3 separate regions of the Homo sapiens genome follow, and all the other regions are linked to region 3. Evidence: fine-mapped expression QTL. A gene starts in region 3. Each other region holds a variant in brackets. All regions are shown on one strand. Distances are from middle to middle.

What was found.
Region 1: its variant is fine-mapped to the expression of LRPAP1 in whole blood (TOPMed, PIP above 0.99).
Region 2: its variant is fine-mapped to the expression of LRPAP1 in whole blood (TOPMed, PIP above 0.99).

What each region holds. Positions count from the first base shown.
Region 1 is chr4:3,505,387-3,512,961 of GRCh38, reverse strand. It overlaps LRPAP1 (LDL receptor related protein associated protein 1), which reads left to right. Exons shown (of 8, transcript NM_002337.4): 8 at 1-7,575. Among named protein-coding and RNA genes, the nearest start is that of LRPAP1, 23 kb to the left of the region's middle. RefSeq lists an enhancer at 2,914-4,113. The variant T/G (reference allele first, on the strand shown) is at 4,727.
Region 2 is chr4:3,555,551-3,563,125 of GRCh38, reverse strand. No RefSeq gene overlaps it. Among named protein-coding and RNA genes, the nearest start is that of LINC00955, 18 kb to the left of the region's middle. The variant C/T (reference allele first, on the strand shown) is at 3,877.
Region 3 is chr4:3,528,416-3,535,990 of GRCh38, reverse strand. LRPAP1 (LDL receptor related protein associated protein 1) reads left to right here and starts at 3,569. Exons shown (of 8, transcript NM_002337.4): 1 at 3,569-3,782. The coding sequence starts at 3,579. RefSeq lists silencers at 3,330-3,389, 3,830-4,079 and enhancers at 3,580-3,789, 6,947-7,575.

The DNA.
Region 1 (7,575 bases), 23 kb after region 3:
GCCCAGCCCGGCAGGGAAGAGGCCAGCGTGAAGGACCTGGGCTCTTGGCCGTGGCATTTCCGTGGACAGCCCGCCGTCAGGGTGGCTGGGGCTGGCACGGGTGTCGAGGCAGGAAGGATTGTTTCTGGTGACTGCAGCCGCTGCCGTCGCGACACAGGGCTTGGTGGTGGTAGCATTTGGGTCTGAGATCGGCCCAGCTCTGACTGAAGGGGCTTGGCTTCCACTCAGCATCAGCGTGGCAGTCACCACCCCAGTGAGGACCTCGATGTCCAGCTGCTGTCAGGTCTGATAGTCCTCTGCTAAAACAACACGATTTACATAAAAAATCTTACACATCTGCCACCGGAAATACCATGCACAGAGTCCTTAAAAAATAGAGTGCAGTATTTAAACCACCCGCTTGTTGGCTGGTCACTAAGTGTCCTGGTGGCTGGGGCCGGAGCCAGTGCTCTTGAAGGGATCGCGTCATAGCCAGCTTCCCCTCTGGGCCCTGTGGGTCTTTGCAGCCAACCTCCTTTTCCCGTGAGACGGCCCGGCCTGATTTAAAGCCAAGAGCGCTTGAGTTGAGTTTGAGGGGAAGATGTGGAGCGTGTGGTTCTGTGGACAGTCAGAGACTGTGGCCTGGGGGCAGCGTCTTTCAACTCTCACCTCTGCAGCTCAGGGACCTCGGGAGACCTCACCAAACCTGCAGGGCCTCCGTGTCCCTAAGTGTGCTGTGTAAATGCCCCATCTCATGGGGGAGAGACAGCCACGGAGGCCTTCCTCTGACCATAGCTGATGGACTGGCGGTTGCTCAGGTCCGGCTCCGAGAATGTTCCTGTGTCTGAGCCTGGAAGAGGCTCGGGTCTGGCTCCAGGCGTGGTTCCCTTCCCGTGTCTGAGCCTGGAAGAGGCTCGGGTCCGGCTCCGAGCGTGGTTCCCTTCCCGTGTCTGAGCCTGGAAGAGGCTCGGGTCCGGCTCCGAGCGTGGTTCCCTTCCCGTGTCTGAGCCTGGAAGAGGCTCGGGTCCGGCTCCGAGCGTGGTTCCCTTCCCGTGTCTGAGCCTGGAAGAGGCTCGGGTCCGGCTCCGAGCGTGGTTCCCTTCCCGTGTCTGAGCCTGGAAGAGGCTCGGGTCCGGCTCTGGGCGTGGTTCCCTTCCCGTGTCTGAGCCTGGAAGAGGCTCGGGTCCGGCTCTGGGCGTGGTTCCCGTGTCTGAGCCTGGAAGAGGCTCGGGTCCGGGTCCAGCTCCGAGCGTGGTTCCCGTGTTTGAACCTGGAAGAGGCTCCACCAGGCGTATTGTGTTTTGACTGCAGCTGGATCTTGGCTTGACTGTTGAGATCTGCCAAACATCCGCTAAGCTATCATTTCTGAGAAAGGTCAAGGCTAGAGGCAGCATGTCGGGAGTTGGCGCATCAGGGTTGGAAGGGCCCCAGGGTACAGCATGTGGGTGCCTGTTCCTTTGTGGACTTGTGTGTGTGTGGCTGGTGGGGCGGGGGGTGGATTCTGGTTCTTTTTTTTCCCATTATCCTGAGAGCCTTAAGGTACTCAGTGTGTTGGTGAGACTCAGCCCTGTCATCTAGCAGAAGTGTGTTCCTTTTCATTGCTGTATAGTATTCCATTGCATGACTGTCCTGTGCTCTGATTTTAATGCACTTTATTGTGGGTGGATATTTGAGTTGCTTCCTTTCTGGGGTAATAACACTCACTTGGAAATAGCTGTGGTGAACACTCGTGTGGGGGTGGGGGTGGGGGCCAACTCTAGGAGCACCTAATGGATCTTACGAAGCGTGTTGTCCAAGTATAGAGATGATTCCAAAGTGGTTGGACTGTGTTTCTTTCTCCCAGCTGGGTGGAAGGAGAACACTAGTGGATTGCTGAGACTTGGTGCTCGGTATTTTTAATTATGGACAGCCTGGCTGGCGTTTTGTGGTGTCTAATTGCGGAGTAGCGTGTCTTACTGTATAATGGCCTCTTTTGTATGTGGGAGACCATGGTGTTGAGGGGAGGCAGTTACACAAAAAACCCAGATACCGAGTGTTAGTTCCATGGGTGTGGCTGGTCATGGTGCGCACTCACGAAGGATGTAGGTGATGCCCTCCACTCCGCAGAGCCAGTCCCACAGGGGTACCCATTCTGACTCCTACCACCGCAGCTCCCTACCTCCCGCCTGCCATGGGTTCCACGTGCATGGCTCTGGGCAGTCTGTGTCTTTGCGTGCGTCTGTGTATGTCTGCGTGTATCTGCTTACATTCGCTCAGCATCTGAGATTCACCCAGGCTTTTGCGTGGATCAGCGGCAGACTCCTGATTGCCGCGTGGCGGCCTGTTGTGTGGGTGTGTGCCGCGTGTGTATCCAGTCCCTACTCAGGAGTGTACGTTTCCAGTGTGGGTTGCAGTCAGGATCCATTTCTCCCTTAACTTTCAGATTATTTGCTGCATAGGCTTTTTTCTCCTAATTTGGCGCCTTTGTCAGAAATCAACTGACCTACCTGTGTGGGTCTGTTTCTGTTTGTCCTTACGCTCTTGCCATTGCCACACTTTAGACAAGGTCTTGCTCTGTCCCTCAGGCTGGAGTGCAGTAGCGTGATCTCAGCTCACTGCACCCTTGACCTCCCATACTCCAGCAATCCCCTCGCCTCAGTCTCCTGAGTAGTAGCTGCGACCACAGGCGTGTGTCACCACACCCGGCTGATTTTATTTTTTTTATTTTTATTTTTTTTGTAGAGACGGGGTTTTACTATGTTGCCCAGGCAGGTCTTGATCTGGGCTCAAGTGATGCTCCTGTCTCAGCCTCCCAAACTACTGGGATTACAGGTTGTAGGTGTGAGCCATGGTGCCCGGCCGCCACACTGTCTTGGCTACAGTTGGGTTTATAATAAACCCTGAATCGAGGTGATGTGCATTTTCCAACTCTTCTTTTTAAAGATTCTTGTGGCTGTTTATGTCCTTGGTGTTTCCATATATGTTTTACAATCAGTGTCTCAATTTCTACCAAAAAAACATGCCTTCTGGAATTTCAATAGCAATTCCCTTGAACGCATTTTTGAATACCTTTTCTGAATGTCTTGAATACATGTTGGGAAGAATCGGTGTCTTAACAGTCTCCAGTGTCCACGCGTTGACTGCCGTGTGTGACTCCAGTCGGCGTCTCAACAGTCTCCAGTGTCCACGCGTTGACTGCCGTGTGTGACTCCAGTCGGCGTCTCAGCAGTCTCCAGTGTCCACGCGTTGACTGCCGTGTGTGACTCCAGTCGGCGTCTCAGCAGTCTCCAGTGTCCACGCGTTGACTGCCGTGTGTGACTCCAGTCGGCGTCTCAGCAGTCTCCGGTGTCCACGCGTTGACTGCCGTGTGTGACTCCAGTCGGCGTCTCAACAGTCTCCGGTGTCCACGCGTTGACTGCCGTGTGTGACTCCAGTCGGCGTCTCAACAGTCTCCGGTGTCCACGCGTTGACTGCCGTGTGTGACTCCAGTCGGCGTCTCAACAGTCTCCGGTGTCCACGCGTTGACTGCCGTGTGTGACTCCAGTCGGCGTCTCAACAGTCTCCGGTGTCCACGCGTTGACTGCCGTGTGTGACTCCAGTCGGCGTCTCAACAGTCTCCGGTGTCCACGCGTTGACTGCCGTGTGTGACTCCAGTCGGCGTCTCAACAGTCTCCGGTGTCCACGCGTTGACTGCCGTGTGTGACTCCAGTCGGCGTCTCAACAGTCTCCGGTGTCCACGCGTTGACTGCCGTGTGTGACTCCAGTCGGCGTCTCAACAGTCTCCGGTGTCCATGCGTTGACTGCCATGTATGACTCCAGGTATTGAGTTCATCTTCAACTTCTCCCAACAATGAACTGGAGTTTTCTGTGCATGTGTCTGGCATGTTTTCCTTTAGATCTAGTCCTAGGTGTTCGATATGCTATTGAGGACTGTGTATTTTTATTTCATTTGTCACCTGTGCGTGGTGCTTTAATCCTGTGCCCTAAACTCCCGCCTTGGCCATGGCGGTGTTTCTGTGGACTCGTGGGGTTTCCGTGTGCACACGCGTGTCCTCTGTCTGACAGTGGCTTTGCTTCCCCTTGTCAGTCTGTGCCTCGGCTTCTCACTGCACTGGTGAGGTGAGCCGGCGCTCGCTAATCTTATTCCCAGTCTCGGTGAACATGGGCTCAGTCTCTCCCGGCTCAGTGTTGGGTTTGCACTGGTGCACTTACAGGCAGAAGAGCTTCCTCATTTGCTGAGGGCTTTTCCTGAATCCGTGTTGAATGTGGTCAGCTGCCTTTCCTGCACCTAGTGAGATGCTCATGAGGTCACTTCCTTACCGCATTACTGTAGTGAATTACGCTGACTTTCATATGCCAAGATGACCTGGCATTTCCAGGTAAGTCCCTGTGGCCATGGTGCATTGGCCTTTTCTCTGCATGGCCAGATGAGATTTGCTCATACCGGGCTAAGGACCTCCTGTGTAGGAATGCTCTTGAGGGACACTGGGCTTGGATGTTCATTGTCTTGTCATGTGATGTGTCTGTCATGGTTTGATATTGCATTAAGTGGGCCTCCTGAAACAAGTTCTGCCATAGTTTGTATAGGATTGGCATTATTTGTTTCATAGAGATGTGATGGGTGAGGCCATCTATGCCTGCCATTTTCTTTTTGCTTAGGTTTTTCATTAAGAACTTGATTTTTAAAAATAGACATGAGGCCTGGCATGGTGGCTCACGCTTGTAATCCCAGCACTTTGGGAGGCCAACGTGGATGGATCACCTGAGG[T/G]CAGGAGTTTGAGACCAACCTAGTCAACATGGTGAAACCCCGTCTCCATTAAAAATATAAAAATTAGCAGGGTGTGGTGGTGCATGCCTGTAATCCCAGCTACTCTGGAGGCTGAGGCAGGAGAATCACTTGAACTCAGGAGGTGGAGGTTGCAGTGAGCTGAGATCACACCACTGCACTCCAGCCTGGGCAACAGAGCGAGGCTCTGTCTCAAAAAAAAAGACATGAGGCTTTTGGATTTTCTGTTTCTTCCTTTGTCATTTTTTTAAAGATAGGTTTGTCGCAGAATTTCATCTAAGTTATCAAAACAATTTACATAAATCATTCACAGTATCCTCTGTGCAGTGATGTCCATTCTCATTCCTGCTCTGGGCCATTTGTGTTTTCTTTTCCCCCTGATCAGACTAGCTAAGAGTTTATCATTTTTACAGATATTTTCCCCAAAGAAACCTACTTTTGGGTCCATTGATTTTTTTTTTCTATTGTTTTCTTTTTCATTGACTTTTGCTCTTTTCTTATGAATTTCCTTTCTTCTACCTATTTTGTGTTCAATTTGCTGTCCTTGTTTTAGGTTCTTTTGATAGAGGCTTAGATCATTGATGAAGAATATGAAAGAATGGGATAATACAGTTAAAAACTTGGTCTACTTATGCCCATTAGAGAAAACATTCTTAAGCACGCATGGAATCTTTTAAAAATGGACGAGGTACTAGGACCCAAAGCAAATGTCAGTAATTCGCAGATGATAATGTATAAATATATGATATGTAGGTAAATAATACAAATCACATTCTTTGGCCAGAGTGCAATTGAGGAGGAAATCAGTAACAAAAAGACAATTAAATCCATTTGATTCTTTTGTTTTCGTTTTGTAGTAACTTGCACTTCCCTGGTGCCAGAGGCATGACACCTTTTTGTCTGCTCTTGGCCATTTGGGTGGCGTCTTTGGGAAGGGCCTACTTAATTCTTTTGCCTATTTAAAAAACTGGGTCTTGGAAATCTTGTCTTTTTTTTTGAGTCAGGATCTTTCTCGCACAGGCTTGGAGTGCAGTGGTGCGATCATAGCTCACTGCAACCTCAAACTCCTGGGCTCAAGCGAGCCTCCCACCTCGGTCTTCTGAGTAGCTGGGACTACAGGCATGCATCACTATGCTCTGCTAATTTAAAGAAAAGGTTTTTTTTATAGAGACTGGGTCTCGCTGTGTTGCCCAGGCTGGTCTCGGAGTCCTGGTCTCAAGTGATTCACCTGCCTCCACCTCGCGGAGTGCCAGGATTACAGGTGGCGGGAGCCGCCACACCCAGCCTGGTCTTAGCGTTATTCCCAGGTCTAGGTGTGAGTCCTTCCTCAGATATGTGTTGTGAATAATTTCCGATCCTCTGGCTTGCTATTTTACTTTCTTAATGGTTATCTTTTGGAAAGCAAAGGTTTCCAGTTTGATGAAATCTAATTTTTATTTTTTATTTTTCCGTTCTAGTGGTCTTTCTATTTTCTCATCAAATTGAGACTTTGGGGAAACTACACAGCAGCAAACCAGGATATATCCTCTTAAAAACAGCTCGAGCCGGCCGGGTGCGGTGGCTCATGCCTGGAATCCCAGCACTTTGGGAGGTGGAGGTGGGCGGATCACGTGAGGTCAGGAGTTTGAGACCAGCCTGGCCAACATGGTGAAACCCCATCTCTACTAAAAATAAAAAATTAGCCAGGCATGGTGGCAGGCACCTGTAATCCCAGCTACTTGGGAGGCTGAGGCAGGAGAATGGCTTGAACCTGGGAGGCAGAGGTTGCAGTGAGCCGAGATCGCGCCATTGCACTCCGGCCTGGGGACAAGAGCAAGACTTCGCCTCAAAAAAAAAAAAAAACCCAGCTTGAGCCAAGTGTGGGTGGCTCCCGCCTGGAATCCCAGCACTTTGGGAGGCTGAGGCGGGCAGATCACTTGAGGCCAGGAGTTTGAGACCAGCCTGGCCAACATCACAAAATCCCATCTCTACTAAAAATACAAAAATTAACCAGGAGTGGTGGCAGCATCTGCCTATAATCCCAGCTACTCGGGAGCCTAAGGCACGAGAATCACTTGAAGCTGGGAGACAGAGTTTGCAGTGAGCCAAAATCGTGCCATTGCTCTCCAGCATGGATAACAGAGCAAGACTCTGTCTCAAAAAAAAAAAGCTTGAAAATTTAAAAATATCTCAATAATTATGAGATGCAGTGATTTTTTTTTTACTTCCCTAAGCTGGGTTTCCAGGTATCTCTAGGTTCAGCTCCTCCGGGGCTGGAAGTACATGAAGGGCAGCATTGCCCACCTTGACCAGAGCAGGCTCGGAGCAGGGCAGTGGAAGAGCTGGTCCCAGCTCAGCCCAGCCTGCTGGGTCAGCATCCATCTGAAAGGTCATCTCTACCCAGGAACTTGATGGCTTCCAGCTCCACCCTAACAGAAACCTCCCCAGCATCTTGCCGAGTTGTAATCCAGGGTGGTGGTATAGACGGTCTTGGGGTAGCTGGTATAGACGGTCTTGGCGTAGCTGGTATAGACGGTCTTGGGGTAGCTGGTATAGACGGTCTTGGGGTAGCTGGTATAGACGGTCTTGGGGTAGCTGGTATAGACGGGCTTGGGGTAGCTGGTAGTGGTGCTCAGGAGGCGTGTGGGCTGCTGGTGCAGCTGGAAGCGCACCTCAGCCATGGTGTTGTGCCAGGTGTGGTTGGGGATGCAGGGGACGTTCCGGCCGCAGGAGGCCCCTGCCAGGCACAGGCAGCTGCGCGGTGTGGAAGAAGTGCCGCTCGGAGTCATGCTTGACAAGGAAGTACACCTTACTCCTCTCAGTGGTGAGGGGTCAAACCACTCCTTCCCAGC
Region 2 (7,575 bases), 27 kb before region 3:
GAGGTGATCCCCAGAAGCAATCTGGGGAGGTTCAGACTCTCACAGCCGGAGGCCGCAAGACCCCTAAACCATAATTTCTAATCTTGCAGCTAATTTGTTAGTCCTACAAAGGCCGACTGGTCCTCAGGCAAGAAGGGGGTCTATTCGGGAAAGGGCTGTTATCAGTTTTGTTTCAGAGTCAAACCATGAACTGAATTCCTTCCCAAAGTTAGTTCGGCCTACGCCCAGGGATGAATAAGGACAGCTTAAAGGTTAGAAGGAATATGGAGTCGGTTAGGTCTGATTTCTTTCACTGTCATCATTTCCTCACTTATAATTTTTGCAAAGGCAGTTTCATGGGGGGTAAACCCAAACGGCCCCCTGCAGTCCTGGGAGTGGCTTCATGAAGGGGACCCCGACAGTTCTCCTCTCCCTAGGGGCGGCCCCCCAGCTGACCACAAGTGTGACCACGAGGCCCTTGGGTAGGGCAACAAAAGGCCGGGGAAGGTGGGGGTGTCCTCCCCAACTCCCGAGCCTCCTTCCACGTGGAGAAAACTGACTTCTCCGACCCCTGCCTCTCTCCCACCATTTGTCACCCACCCCCACGCAGGGAGGGGTTGGCAAATCCAGGCGGGGTCTGCAGGGCAGGCTGAGCTCACTCTCCGCTGCCACCTGCAGGGGTGGCCTGCTCTGCTGAACAGGTGGGGGCTCCCTGGAGGCTGGCCTGGGCTGCACCTTTGGGCAGGTGGCCCCTCCACTCTGGGGTTCAGGGAAGGCCCCCTTGGCCTTCACTCTGAGCCGCGTCCTCCGACCAGCCTCCATTGGGAATAACGGGCAGCCTGGCATCACAGCCTCTGTGGGCCCCTCCTCTGGGCTAAAGTATTACGAATGATGTTTCATAACTGCGTTTGTAGAAAGATGACTACAGCCCAGGCTGCACTGTGTTTATTCTGATTTTAGAAGGCATTAAACCACTTTCCTGACCCCTAAAAGTCTCCTGGGCCCTGGCACTAAGCCTGCTACACCCTGTGAAAGGAAAATCAATCTCAGGCCCCAAAATTACCAAGCCAAGGGAAGAGTCAAGCTAGGTACTGCTCAGGCAAACCTGCCTCCCAGTCCACTCCTGAATAAGATGGCTACAGAGACTAAAAAGCCACTACCTCCCTCAAAATTTGCCCATGAGGAAATTCCTCATAGACAAATGACAGACAGGACCCAACGCCATCCCTCTGCTCCCCTGAGACAAATCCATATCTGATGGCTTCCTCTGCCCTATTGTTGATATAAAAATACAGATTCCCTGAGCCAGACTAAATTGTGTTTCAGTGGGAAGCCGATCAAGGTCTCAAAAGAATGCAACAGTTTGTCTCTTACCTACTTATGACCTGGAAGTCCCCCACCCCCGCAAGTTGTCAAGCTGCCCCACCTTACCTGACCAAACAAACGTACATCTTACACATATTGATTGATGTCTCATGTCCCCCTAAAATGTACAAAAGAAAGCATGGTGGCTCACGCCTGTAATCCCAGCACTTTGGGAGACCAAGGCAGGTGGATGACGAGGTCAGGAGCTCGAGACCAGTCTGGCCAAGATGGTGAAACCCTGTCTCTACTAAAAATACAAAAACTTAGCCATGCATGGTACCATGCGCCTATATTCCCAGCTACTGGGGAGGCTGGGACAGAGAATTGCTTGAACCCGGGAGACGGAGGTTGCAGTGAGCCGAGATCGCACCACTGCACTCCAGCCTGAGCAACAGAGTGAGACTCTATCTCAATAAAATAAAATAACAAAAAAAAAAAAAAAAGCAAACTGTACCCTGACCACTTTGGGCACATGTCGTCAAGACCTCCTGAGGCTGTGTCACAGGCCCTTACTTCACCTTGGCAAAATAAGTGTTTTAAATTTATTGAGACCTGTCTCAGATATCTTTTGGTTTACAACCTGATGGAGGAGTTGGCACTGATAGAAGGGTTTTGGGTTTCCAGCACCTGCCTTCATGCCTTACTTCTCGGTGGGCTCAGGACTCAGAATGGAAAAGAGTCCCAGGAGACCCCAGTAGCTCTTCAACTCTTTTACTCTCGCTGTTTTCTCTCCTTTACAGCAGACACCACTATCTGCAAAGGGTCCTGTTCGCTGCTTCTGCCTGCCAGGAAGCACAGCCTAGAGGGCAGTGTCCATGACTGTCCTGAGTAACCACTGGGTCCCCAGCATCTCAGCTTCACAGCTGTTCCGTAATGACCTTCAGATGGAGGGACGAGGCGGGTGGGTGGGGGGATGGATGGATGGATGCATGGATGGGTGGATGGGTGGATAGGTGAGTGGGTGGGTGGATGGATGAGTGGGTGCATGGGCAGGTATGTGGATAGATGGAAGTATGGGTAGATGGATGGGTGGATGGATGGGTCAATACGTGGATGGGTGGGTGGGTGAATGGGTGGATGGATGGATGAATGGATGAGTAGATGGATGCATGAATGGATGGTTGGATGGATGGTGGATGGATGGGTGAGTAGGTGGATGGACAGATGGGGAATGGATGGATAGATGAACAAATAAGTGATGGATGGGTGGGTGTATGGATGGATGGGTGGGTGGATGGGTGGGTGGGTGGATGGGTGTGTGGGTGGATGGATGGATGTGTAGATGGGTGGATGGATAAGTGGATGGATGGGTGAATGGGTGGATAAGTAGATGAATGGGTGGGTGGAGAAATACATGAGTGTGTGGATGAATAGGTTACAGAGTAAAATGCCACCACCAGAGCAGTGCAACAGCGTGCTTTGCACTCAGCTCTGCCATGGAAAAAGTGGTTCCTTCCCAGGCTCTCACCAGGCTCACATGGGCTCCAGACCCCTGCACCCCCAACCAGACTGGGGACACAGGGACTGTCTGCTCAGATCTGCATCCATGCACCTGGCCAACACCAAGTGAGTCACAGGGAACCAGGTGGCCTGAGAGAAGGACCGATGACAGATGGCCTCACCCATGTCGCCAGGAGGCTTGGGTCCCAGTCCTGTGGCCCCACCAGCCAAGAGCTTGTGGACATTCAGAATCAGGCTTGCTGGTTTAAGCCCGGGCATGCAGCACCAACATTGTCTGCCCATGGGCTCTCTGGGTCGTGCCCTGCCTGACTCAGTCCCTGCATCACCAGTGCCAGGCCAGGCACAGACAGGCTCAGTGGGGTGGGCTAAGTAGTGCTGGGGACCCAAACCAGGCATCAGAGGGATTGAGATGCCCCCAGGCTGACTCCCACTCAAGCGGGTCCCCCCGCCTCCCCCCGAGCCCATCCCCTCTGTCCACCTGCTGCCACTCTGACAGCTACAACCAACCCAGGCTCGGGGCTGCCTGGACTCTGCCTACAACTTCACAGGCTCACTCCCATGCTGTCCTTCACACCTGGAGAAGTGCCAAGGTTACCAGTGCCACAGAACAAACAGCCGCATGCACTCTGCACCCTGCTCAGCCATTGAGACAGCAGATTCTGTAGCTTTGGGCAGTTCCCACATCCTTCCAGTCCTGATCTTTCCCCTGGAAGCCAAGGAGCATTCAGCGCCTTCTCTACGTGCTCTTGGCCCCTGTCCACAACAAAGGCCACAGGTCTCTTGTTGTGGAACTATGAGTGAACCCAGCGTTCTCCCCAGGGACCCCAGCACAAAACAAGCTCTCAACACACATGAGTGAATAAAATTGTCCCAGAAAGCGGGAGACTTTACACAGTGGCTACAATGTCCCTAGTACACTGCCACAGTCCAGAAGGGAGAGAAGGGGCTGTGCACACCAGGAAGCCAGAAGCCCACATGCACCTGCACAGGGTCTGTGCATGGAGCTCCGGCAGGTCCAATCTCTTGGCCTTCAGAATAATGATGTAAATACAGGCACAAACATGGAGCAGG[C/T]GCCACTCAATGTGCAAACCCTCCCCCTTCTTCTGGTGAGGCCAGAAGTACCTAGGTAGGAGCAGCCCCTACCTCCGACCACCTCCCTCCCTGCAGTGGGAATAGCAGCCCAATCCCCAGGCTGCAGGGATCCACAGGCTGTGCAAGTGTGGCTGTACCCCAGCATGCCCTGGTGCGAAGCTGTGCCCAGGGAGATGTTATCTGCACCCCAGACTGCCTGTGGTGCTGCAGAGTGGTGCCGAGGACGGAGCAGGGCACACCTGGAGTCTATATCACCTGCCTTCCCTAGGGAGTCTTGGGCCCTCTCCACATTCAAGGCGAGGGGAGCAGGGGATCTCCACGAAGACCCCCTGAGCACCTCCCTTCTCTTTTTGCTGATAAATAACCCAAGGCTTAAGGGGTTTTGGAACCAAGACATGGTCACTGATGTTAGAGGAATGGCTCGCTCTCCCTCCTAGCATCCCTACCAGGTAAGGGGGGGCAATTGGTTGCTCCAAGCACCCTGGTTGCTGTAGGAAGGAGAATGGAGACATCGGGCTGAGCCCACTGGCCTCCTTCAGCGCTCGGGCTCTCCCCTGCAGACAGCCTTCCTCAGCAGCCGCACAGCTCAGGGCTTCTCCTCCCTGGGTGCCAGTAACCCCAGGTAAGCCTCTGGCTGCCCGGCAATTCCAATACCCAGAGGGAGGAGCCAACAGGGCAGGCCACGTTCTCACCAAGCCATCTGCAGAGGGGTCAGGTCCACCCTGAGTCCTCCCTTCTCAGTAACAAGCTGCTACTGTGTTTTCCATTGTCCCACAGCTGATTTGTCAGTCAGTGCAATCACAGCGAGGACAAACACTAATGCCCCTCCTGAGACCTCTCTTCCGGCTGATGGTGTGGACCTTGACTCCACAGCAGGTGTCTGCAGGCCCTCCAGCTGGCCCTCGGTAGCCTGGAGTGGCTCATCCTGGACAGACTCACCGCTATGACGCAGGGGGAACTGCCAGGAGTCCCTGAGCGAGGTGATCTGAGAAATGCCATGGCAGTGTTCTAAGCCAGCAGCCTGGCTTACTCACAACCTCTCTGCTGTGTGACCTTGAGCAAGTGCCTTAACCTCTCTGAGCCTCAGCTTGCCCCTCTGTTAAAGAATGATCATATATGACACCTAACAACGTTATGTGGAGTATCAGCAACAAGGAATCCACTGCAGCCAGTGTTGCAGGTGCAACTGGCTGGGGCTGGTGTCACGGGTGGTAAAAGAATTTACCGAGACAGTCGTGGGTAAAGAAAGTCTGAAGACACCTTGCAAGAGAACAGCAGGCAGCATGGCAGAGAGAAGGCCACCTCCCCAGGGGCAGGGGCCAGGGGGAAGTTTGATAGGGTCACACTGGAGAGGCGACATGCAGACAGGGTCATGCTGGAGAGGCCACATGCAAACAGAGTCACACTGGAGAGGCCACATGTGGATACAGTCATGCTGGAGAGGCGACATGCAGACAGGGTCACTCTGGAGAGGCCACACGCAGACAGGGTCACGCTGGAGAGGCCCCACGCAGACAGGGTCACGCTGGAGAGGCCCCACGCAGACAGGGTCACGCTGGAGAGGCCCCACGCAGACAGGGTCACGCAGGAGAGGCCCCACGCAGACAGGGTCACGCTGGAGAGGCCCCACGCAGACAGGGTCACGCTGGAGAGGCCCCACGCAGACAGGGTCACGCTGGAGAGGCCCCACGCAGACAGGGTCACGCTGGAGAGGCCCCACGCAGACAGCATCACGCTGGAGAGGCCACATGCAGACAGGGTCACTCTGGAGAGGCCACATGCAGACAGGGTCACTCTGGAGAGGCCACATGCAGACAGGGTCATGCTGGAGAGGCTACATGTGGAAACGGTCACACTGGAGAGGCGACATGCAAACAGGGTCACGCTGGAGAGGCCACATGCAGACAGGGTCACGCTGGAGAGGCCCCATGCAGACAGGGTCATGCTGCTGGAGCTAACGTGCAGAGTGAGGTATTTGGTAACATGAGGTTGTGCAAGCGGGCTGCTTGTGGTTAGCCATTTCTTAGAACAACGGCTCTCCCCGACCCTAGTTCATGTTCTTGCCAGCTAGGGCCTGTGGTGCCATGGAGCTGTGCAGAGGAGGGAACCCCTTCCTCATTTCTATCAGCTGATCGGGACTCCACAGTTTGGTTTCGCTGCATATGACAATCCCAGCAAAAGAAGCATAAACAAGAAAGAAGCTGATTTCTTTCTGAAGGGAGAATCTGGGGATGACTGATTGAGGGTGAGGTGGCAGCTCCTCGATGTCCTCAGGGACCCAGATCCTGGCTGTCCTGCTCCTCGTCCTCCACGCATAGTGTCTAGCCTCAAAGCCACTCCATGGTCCAAGGTGGCTGCTGGTGCTCCAGCCATCAAGACCACAGGACAGGTGGAAGAAAGCTGGAAAAGTACAGGGCAGAAAAGGGCCCCTCCCAGAAGTCCCAGCTGAGTCAGCTTGTTTTTGAGCCATCTTCCTGGAAGTCTCCTACAGCACTTCTGCCTTTAACCCACTGGCCACGACTTAGCAGCTCGGCTCCACTTAGCCTCAGGGAGGAGGCTGGGAGATGCAGGTTTTCATTCTGGCCAGCTACATGCCCCACGACGCATCAGGGTTCTGCCTCCGCGGAGGAAGGGAAGAGGACCATGTCTGTACAAGGGGAGCTAGACCCACGATAAACATGAGCCACGCTAATGTTGTCAGCATCCCCAGAACAGCCGGCAACACAGCCTCACATCACACCCAACCTCCCGCCAGCCTCCAGCCCTGGGCAGCGTCCTCACTGCACCGCAGCCTAGAGAGGGAGCCAGAGTGCAAAAGGGACAGAAAGGGAGAGAACCGGAGGCCACGCTGACCCGAGCAGCCAGGGACAGAGGACAGACCCGGGAGGCAGATGGGAGTTCAGGGCAAGGAAAGTCTTGGGGGCTGCCTGGGGCGGGGGGAGGGAGATGTGGGGGGCAGAGGTAGGGGTGAGCTGCACCTGGGAGGGAACATGCACCCTCTTCCTAAGGAGACCCTGAGAGGCTCAGGGGAGACGGTAGCATGCAACAGCACCTGCTGCTCCCCTCTGCAGGAGGCCGACTCCACGGAGGACCATGCTCTGGCAGAGGAACCCAAATATGCATTTTTCCCACACCTCAGCCTCTCCTGGCCCCAAGGCAGGTACAGGCTCAGAGCTGGGGAACCGGCTGGAGATTTTCCTCTTTTTGCTGACTCTGCCCTGGCATATTCTGAGATACAGGGGTCAAGACTTCAACATATGAATTTGGGAGTCACAGTTCAACCCAGCATGCTATACAGATCTCAAGGGTGTCACTCAGGGAGTTGACAAAAGCGGACTCCACCAAGATAAGAACCTGACCACCCCCGAGATATGCGCTCATCAGTCCCCACTGCACCCCCTCCAGAGGCGACTTTTCATTGCAGATCAGCGTGACCTGTTCTAGAGCTTCCTACAGGCAGAGTCAGGCCGCACTGGCCCGCCCCAGCTCTCAGAGGCCGGCCATCACTGTGCACCCACACACCACCAGCTGTAACCCAGGCACAGGACCTCAAGGTGGGCTGGCTCAGCTGCCAACAGGAGCGAGTGGTGCTGAGGTCCTCCCAGGAGCCGTGGCCCAGCACCTCCTGGCCGGAACAACCATCCTATTCAAATAAACGAGTAACAAGAATGGGCACGC
Region 3 (7,575 bases):
GGTCTACAGGCAAATTCCTCGCGGGCACCTTCCCTTGTCCTGGCTGCCGCTCTGCTTCCTTTGCAAGCTCCTTCTCGCACCCTTGCGCTGGCTCCCTCCAGAGGGCTCCATCCCCTGCCCACTGTGCCTTCGTGGGTGGTGCCCAGATCTCTGTCTCCTCTGCCCTGGACCCCTCTGCCCCTGACTGGCAGATCTATAGAGTTCAGTGCCCCTGGAGGGCTCCACGTCCATCCCACAGGGACCCGGACTCTCATCTTCCTCCTGAGCGTGCTCTCCCTGGAGACCTGGCATTGGAATTCGCCCTGCCACCTTCTGGTCTCCCCAAGTGGAAACCTGGGCGTCAGTCTGGACGCTTGTCACCAAATTCTGTCCCTTCCACCTTCACATGGCCTCTCCATCTTCACTGCCTCCGTGTCTCTATCTCATCCCGATCACCTTCGCCTCTCCTCTGGCGGAGAGCACCAGCATTCCCACTGGTCTCTGCTTTTCCTCAAACGCATCTCTGTGTAACTCTCCCCTCAGGATCACTCTGTGGCCCCCATTGCTCTGGGTGGAATCTTCCTTCCAGTGGCGTTTCAGTCCCCTGGGTCTGCCTCACTCTTCACCACCGTCTTGTGCTTCTGCACTGAGCTCCAGCCAGACCACCTGCCTGCAGCCACCTGGCGCTACCTGTTCCCGTGTGCTTCCTGCCTTTGCCTGGAGAGAATAACAATCTATAGTCCAAACTCAAGGACAAAAACAAACTGCTTTTTGGCCGTGGTGGCATGAAACCCCAATAAGTCAATGACAATGCTGCATGCTTCTGAAAGCCGGCCAGTCAGGGACAGCCCCACACTACAGAACAGGCCCAGGCAGCAAGAACCTTGTGCCCCTGAAGTCAGGCTGAACACTCTCACTTCTGAAAGCTGGACAATCCTCAATGCCAGGCTTCCCAAGAGACTCAATTTGTTTTGCTCTGAGAGATGGTCCTATAAGCACAGTTCCCCTTTTCTCTCGTAAGCAAGATACTCAGCTTCAGCACTGACCAGCCTCACAATCCGTCCTCACCAAGTGGAGGGCCCTCCCTCCGGGTTCCTCCACGGCCGTATCTGTCTCTGTTCATACACCTTCCCCTCAGCACTTAGAGACACGGGCTGGCATGGCGGGTGCTGGCGGCAGGGGTGAGAAATAAACTTTCAGCCCTAGAGGAGGAGCCCAAGAGGAGAGCATGCCGTCACCTGGAGTCTCTGGTATGTGCCTGGCACCTGTACTGATTGCATTAACCACTGTGATTTTTTAGAAGATGTACTAGTTTGAAATGTATAATACATACGGAGAAGTGTATGAAATATGTACAATTTAAAGATAAGGAAAAATGCATGCCTGTGTGCCCACCACCTAGTGAAGAACTACAACCTGGACACCACTTTGGAAGCCTGTCTGTGTTCACCCGTCGCATTCTCCCTCCTCCCCCAGCCCAGGTATCCTCCATCCTTTAGCCATCCCCTGACTTTCTTTAGTTTCATTGCCTGTGTATGCAGCCACGAATAAAATATTGCTTAGTTATCTGGGAAACCGGGCTGTATAGGAAAAGGGCTCTTAGAACCCCACACCACTGTCAGATGCAGGATCCCAGAAGACTCTGCTCCCAGTCCAGCTTCCAATTCCTGTGGGTTTATAACGGGCCTTTCTAGAGACACTGGGGGCAGGATTCACAGAGCTGGAACATTTGCAGTTAGGACCACATTCCAGATGACCAACAGGGACATGCTTGGGGGGGATAGGCCAATTTGGACTATCCCCTTCTAAGCCCACCAAGACCTACCTGTAGCTCTCAGGAGTGGGGTCAGGGCAAAACATGTATGTGGGGTAAAACAGGTGACCTCTGATTCTAGGCACCAGGAGATGGAGAGAAGAGCAGGAACGAGGGAACACAAGGGGAAGGCAGGCACAGGTGAGAATCTAGGCCAGGCTCACCTGGCCATTCTGTCCTGAGGCTTAAAAACATGCAATGATGGCAATGACAGCATTTGATCTGTCTCTGGAGTCACTTCGCATGAGGTCATTCTCCCTCCACCACCCTCCTGGGGGATTCCTTTACCTCCTCTCCCCCATACATCCCATATTGGGAACTTGTGCTTCCAGCTAAGATGCAGTAACAGACTGAATTTACCCTCTTGCCTGAAACAACTCAACAGCTGGAAAAAAAGAAATGAAACGATGGCTCTGAAAATACTAGAAAAGCAGCACAGGACAGAAGCAGATCACCTTGATTCCAGGGACCTGAAATCTTCTCTGGAACAACACAAGATACAATTTAAATGTAAATTAGGGTAGGCCCAGTGGCCCACGCCTGTAATCCCAGCACTTTGGGGGACCAAGACGGGAGGGTTGCTTGAGCCCAGGAGTTGGAGAACAGCCTGGACAACATAGGGAGACCTAATTTCTACCAAAAAATTTCAAAAATTAGCTGGGCGTGGTGACACGCACCTATAGTTCCAGCTACTTGGGAGGCTGAGGCAGGAGGATCGCTTTAGCCCAGGAGGTCGAGGCTGCAGTGAGCCATGATCATGCCACTGCACTCCAGCCTCGATGACAGAGACCCTATCCCCCCACGCAAAAAAAGGAAATGAATTAACATTAATTCCTCTCAAGATGCCCAGGCTCTATTCACCCCCTTTGTCATTGTCCCTCCAGTTGGAAATTCCTCCCTCCCCCCGCAAAATCCCGCCCACCCTTGGAGGCCTTTTCAGATCATTCTTGCCAGATGAGCTCCCCTTGTCCCTTCTCTGAGCCCAAAGGGGCCCAGCTGCTGTCTGTCTCCCTCCTTCCCCTTGTTTCCCGCGCTACCTCCAGGGCACTTCCCAACTCACTGGCCAAGCCCCCAACGAGCGGTCTATGCTAACTTTGGCTCTGTGAATTTCCTAGAGTGTCATGGGTTGGGGAAAAGCGCGCGAAGTCCTGCCTTGCAGCAGGCGCGAGAGCAGGCGCTTGGGACGCGGGTTGGGGCAGGGGCCCCGGGACGTAGGGGGACGTCTGCGCGGCCCTGCGTCCCCGGGACAACCTGGCCTGGGCTTACCCACGGCCAGGCGCTCCGCGGAGGGCAGAAGCGGGCTGGGCCAGGCTCCTCAGCGCCAGGCCCGGGCCGCAGTGCCAACCCCGCAACGGCACTGGACATGCAAGAGTCGGCGTCAGTGCGCGTGAAGCCGGAGCATTATCAGGCTCAGCCAAACGCGGCCCGGTTCTTGGGCTTTCCGCTCTTTCTGTGGGGCAGAGAGGGAAAGAGGCCTCGAGTCGTGCGGGCTCCAGGCTCCGGGCTCTGGGTGAGGCCTGATCCCTGCTCCCACCCGGCCACCCTCATTCTCCAGTTGTATCCCCTGCCAGAGTCTGCAGCCTCGGGCCGCGGCGTGGTTGCCTGGGAAACGCTTGCGCCTGCGCAGGGCTTCCTAGGCGCTGGAGTCCGCCGGCGGCCTCGCCGCTGCCGGCCGCTCACGGAGGAACTACAATTCCCAGGAGACCGCGCGGTGGGTGGGGGCGGGGTAGTGGGCGGGGCATCGGCAGGCTAGGTTTTCTCCGCGCAGCGCCAGTCGCAGAGGAAGATGGCGCCGCGGAGGGTCAGGTCGTTTCTGCGCGGGCTCCCGGCGCTGCTACTGCTGCTGCTCTTCCTCGGGCCCTGGCCCGCTGCGAGCCACGGCGGCAAGTACTCGCGGGAGAAGAACCAGCCCAAGCCGTCCCCGAAACGCGAGTCCGGAGAGGAGTTCCGCATGGAGAAGTTGAACCAGCTGTGGGAGAAGGCCCAGCGAGTGAGCGCGGCCCGCGGTCGGTGGAGCGGGGCCTGGGGGCGGGGGCCGTGGTTGGGGTCGTTGGAGCGGGGCCCAGGGGTCGGAGGCGGAGGGGGGCGCAGCCGGGGCACCTGTGCCCTACGCGCCCTGTCCTTGGCACAGCCTCCCCCAAGTGTCAGGTGGGGCGCCCCGACCCCTTCTGCAGCAGGAAAGGTACCCGTGCCGGCGACGACGCCGTGTGAAGCAGGTGGCGGCCGGCACCCCGAGGGTCAGTGTCGCCCTCCCCAGCCTGGGCGGCCTGCTGACCCGAGCGTAGGGACAGAACCAGGCTAGATCACAGGTCTCCTGCCTCCCGAGCCTTTGCCTGTTCCCTCAACCTTATCTCCCTATGTGGGGAAACAAGAAAAACAAAATGTTGGGTAGAAAGACGTGTCCAGGGACAGAAGGAATCCCAGTAGCAAGCCCGTGCTTGTTCATTTGAGCGAGAAATGAGGAGGTGAGGAGATGGGATCGGTTTAGAGCACATAAAACGCGACCTTGGGAATGCTGAAAGTCAGTCTTAACAGGGCGCTCACCTGACCTCTCCTTCATTTGAGAGATGAGGGTACGGAGGCCCCGAGGGGAAAGGGCACCCCCAAGGTGGCTCGGCCGGTGGGGCCCCCCGGGACAACAGCTTCCTAATTGGTGCGTGACCCTGGGCCAGCTGCTCTCTTCATTAAGATACGGTTGCTTCATTTGTTAGGTGTTCCTGAAAACACCTGAAATGGGTGTTTTCGAACTATGCCGACCATCTGGGCCTCATTATCTCATCTCAAATGCAGGAGTCAGATTAGATCTCTGTCTCAATAGTCCAGTTTTAAGCATTCCTGAGTCTTTGAGAGGGAAAGTAAGTGATTTGCAGAATAAGAAGGAACTTTTGGAACGAAAAGGGAGAGGAGAAACAGGTGGGGGACAGACAGACGACAGACGGTTATAAGACTGCGTGGGGATGGGGATTGACGCCTGGGCATCAGCTCCACAGGCCCTTCCTGAACTGCTCCTGGGACCAGCAGTCAAGCCCCAGGCGTAATGTTCAGCCTGCGGAGGTGGGAGGTGGGAGAACGCTCTGGGCTGGAGCGGCAGGGCGGCTTCTTGGAGGAAGGGATTCTGGAGGGGCTGGGGACACGGCTGGGTTTGGATGTGTTGATGGCCTCCCAGCAGCAGGGAACAGGTGTGACCAGGAGCAGCCGGGATGCAGTGCTGCCTCCCCGTGCCCACTGCACTGGGCATCTGTTGAGTGGGTGGAGTCCCCCCTCCCCATGAGGAATGGGGAGCCCGAAATAGACTCCCTGACCGATTGGAGGTGGCGCTGAGGAAGTGCACTCGGACCCAGGAACCCCAGCGGCTCCCTTTTGGGTGCTGGCCCAAGTCTTCCACCTGCTCTGCAGGGCCGCCCTGGTGCGCTCCACCTTACCTCCAGCCACCTCCAGCTGGTCCTCTGTCTTTGTCAGCCCAGGCCTCCTGCAGCAATACACCTGCCCTCAGGCTGCCCCTGCACTGGTCCAGCTACCCTCGGGCTGCCCCTGCACTGTCCCCCGGTGCTGGGTGCTCGCCTGACCAGTTTCAGTCTTGGGTTGGGTCATGTCTCCTAAACCTCCCTGAGGTTCACTGGGCACCATGGTAGGGCGAGCTGCTCACCTCCACTTTGGACTGAGCCTTGGACTAGATGATCTTTCTGGTCCCTTTAAGTCCTGAAGTTCTAGTTGTGTGGGCAAGTCTTTTTTGCTGAACAGAACGTGAAGTTCTTCGGGGGTGAGGGTGTTTTGGGGGATTTTGTGTGTCTTCCCCCATTCCAGAGAGCCTGGTACTATGGCAGGCAGGCCTGCAGAGCCCATTCGTCCTGATTTTCCTTCCAGATAACGGAAGCTTGGAGGGTGGCGGTGCTGTGAGGGTGTTCTATCCTGGAGCCAAGTGTGCAGGCGTCAGACCCGTCCGGGTCTTTTTGAGGTTCTCAGTGGCGGTAGTGCATCCCGGGTGGTCTTTGTGCTGTGGCTCTTTCTGCCGAGCGTGCCAGGGCCCAGGGTGGTCAGGAGGCAGGAGGAGCCACAGTCAGTTCAAACGTAGGGGGAGAGAATTGTTCGTGCAAATAGTCACTCCAGTCGGCTTCTTACCCCACCTGACTCGCCGCTCTAGGTAGGTATCAGACGGAGACGGGGTCTTGGATCGCCCCCTGGAAGATAATTGAGGTGAGGGCTGCTTTTTCAGAGAAGCACTTCCTGCCCGGCTCTGCAGCCACTGCTCTCAGCCTCCTGCGACCTGCGCTCAGCAGCCAGGACGGTCTTGTCCTTTCTTTGGTTTGCTTCATGAAAACATCGTGTCCCTGTTTTCTGCATGTAAAGCCACATCCTGGCATATAGGATTGCGTAGTGTGTCAGTAGGCATAGGGTGAAGGGAGCGTTTCAGGAAACCTTTGCCTTTGATGGGCTTGGGCTGTGAGACCTGCGTTGAGGTTGCCGCCAAGAAGATGCTGAGACCCGCTTTCATCAGGCGAGACCCGGCCAGGGGGGTGCTGCTTCATCCTCTCCAGCAACTTGAATCTTGACTTTCTGTGACTCTCCCAGTTCCTCTTTCACAGGCGGGCTCCACTGTGTTGCAAGACTCCTGAGCAGAGGCTGTCCCTGGAGCTTTGGAGGTCAGAGGCCATGCAGAGCCCTTGTGCTCACAGACGACTTCTGAGGACTCTGCCTCTTCAGAGCTCTGTGTGTTGTGTTGATGCTGAGGAGTAAGCTCCAGGGTCTGCATGGTCCAGCTGCGGCGCTCAGGGACACACTCGTGTACCTCTTGGCCTGGGCTGCACGGTGCCATGAGCTCGGAGTCCTTGGCCATAGGTCCTTAGTTTTTTTGGTTTTTTGTTTTTTTGTTTTTTTTGAGACAGAGTCTCACTCTGTCGCCGAGGCTGGGGTGCAGTGGCGTGATCTCGGCTCACTGCAACCTCCGCCTCCCAGGTTCAAGCGATTCTCGTGCCTCAGCCTCCTGAGTAGCTGGGATTACAGGCATGCACCACCATGCCTGGCTAATTTTTATATTTTTAGTAGAGACGGGGTTTCACCATGTTGGCCAGGCTGGTCTCGAACTCCTGGGCTCAAGTGATCCTCCCGCCTCTGCCTCCTAAAGTGTTGGGATTACAGGTGTAGTCCCAGGAGGCACCGCACGCAGACAGTCCTTAGTTCTGACGTGAATGGTGACTGCAATGAGAGTGTGTGAAGCATCTTGTTCTCAGAGGTCTGACGAGTGGAAACTGAGGTCTGCAGAGAGGAGCCCTCAGAGCCCCACCCCAGCTCTCAAGCGTCCCCCCTGGCTTGAGAAGGGCCTCTGAGGATGGGCCAGCCAGTGGCCTCCATGGGCACCTAGGACTCGCCAGGCCAATGCATGACCTCACAGCAGCTCAAGGCGGGTACGGCTGTGCCCTTGTCCACGGAGCTCAGGTGGAAGGAGCTGGGGCACAGTGGCTGGGCTGGGACAGTGCATGCCACCTGCCGTGGTGAGACAGGTACAGCGTGCCAGGAAGCCTTGGTCACCGCCACAGCCTGCTCCTCATGGTGGGTGCCTTGCAGTCTGGCGCGGGCACTCAGGTGAGCGCTGGGAGGATGGCACATGCCCTCTGAAGAGGTGGTCCATTGGCGGTCCTGGTGGCATTGGAACCTGCCCAGCCTGAACTGTGCGGTGTGTGCAGGTTGACACCAGTGGTGTAGCTGTGGACCCTGGCCTGGGTTTCCTGGGGCGTTGAGAAGCAGCAGCAGGTTATTGGAAAGTTCCAGAAAGCTCTGCTGGCACG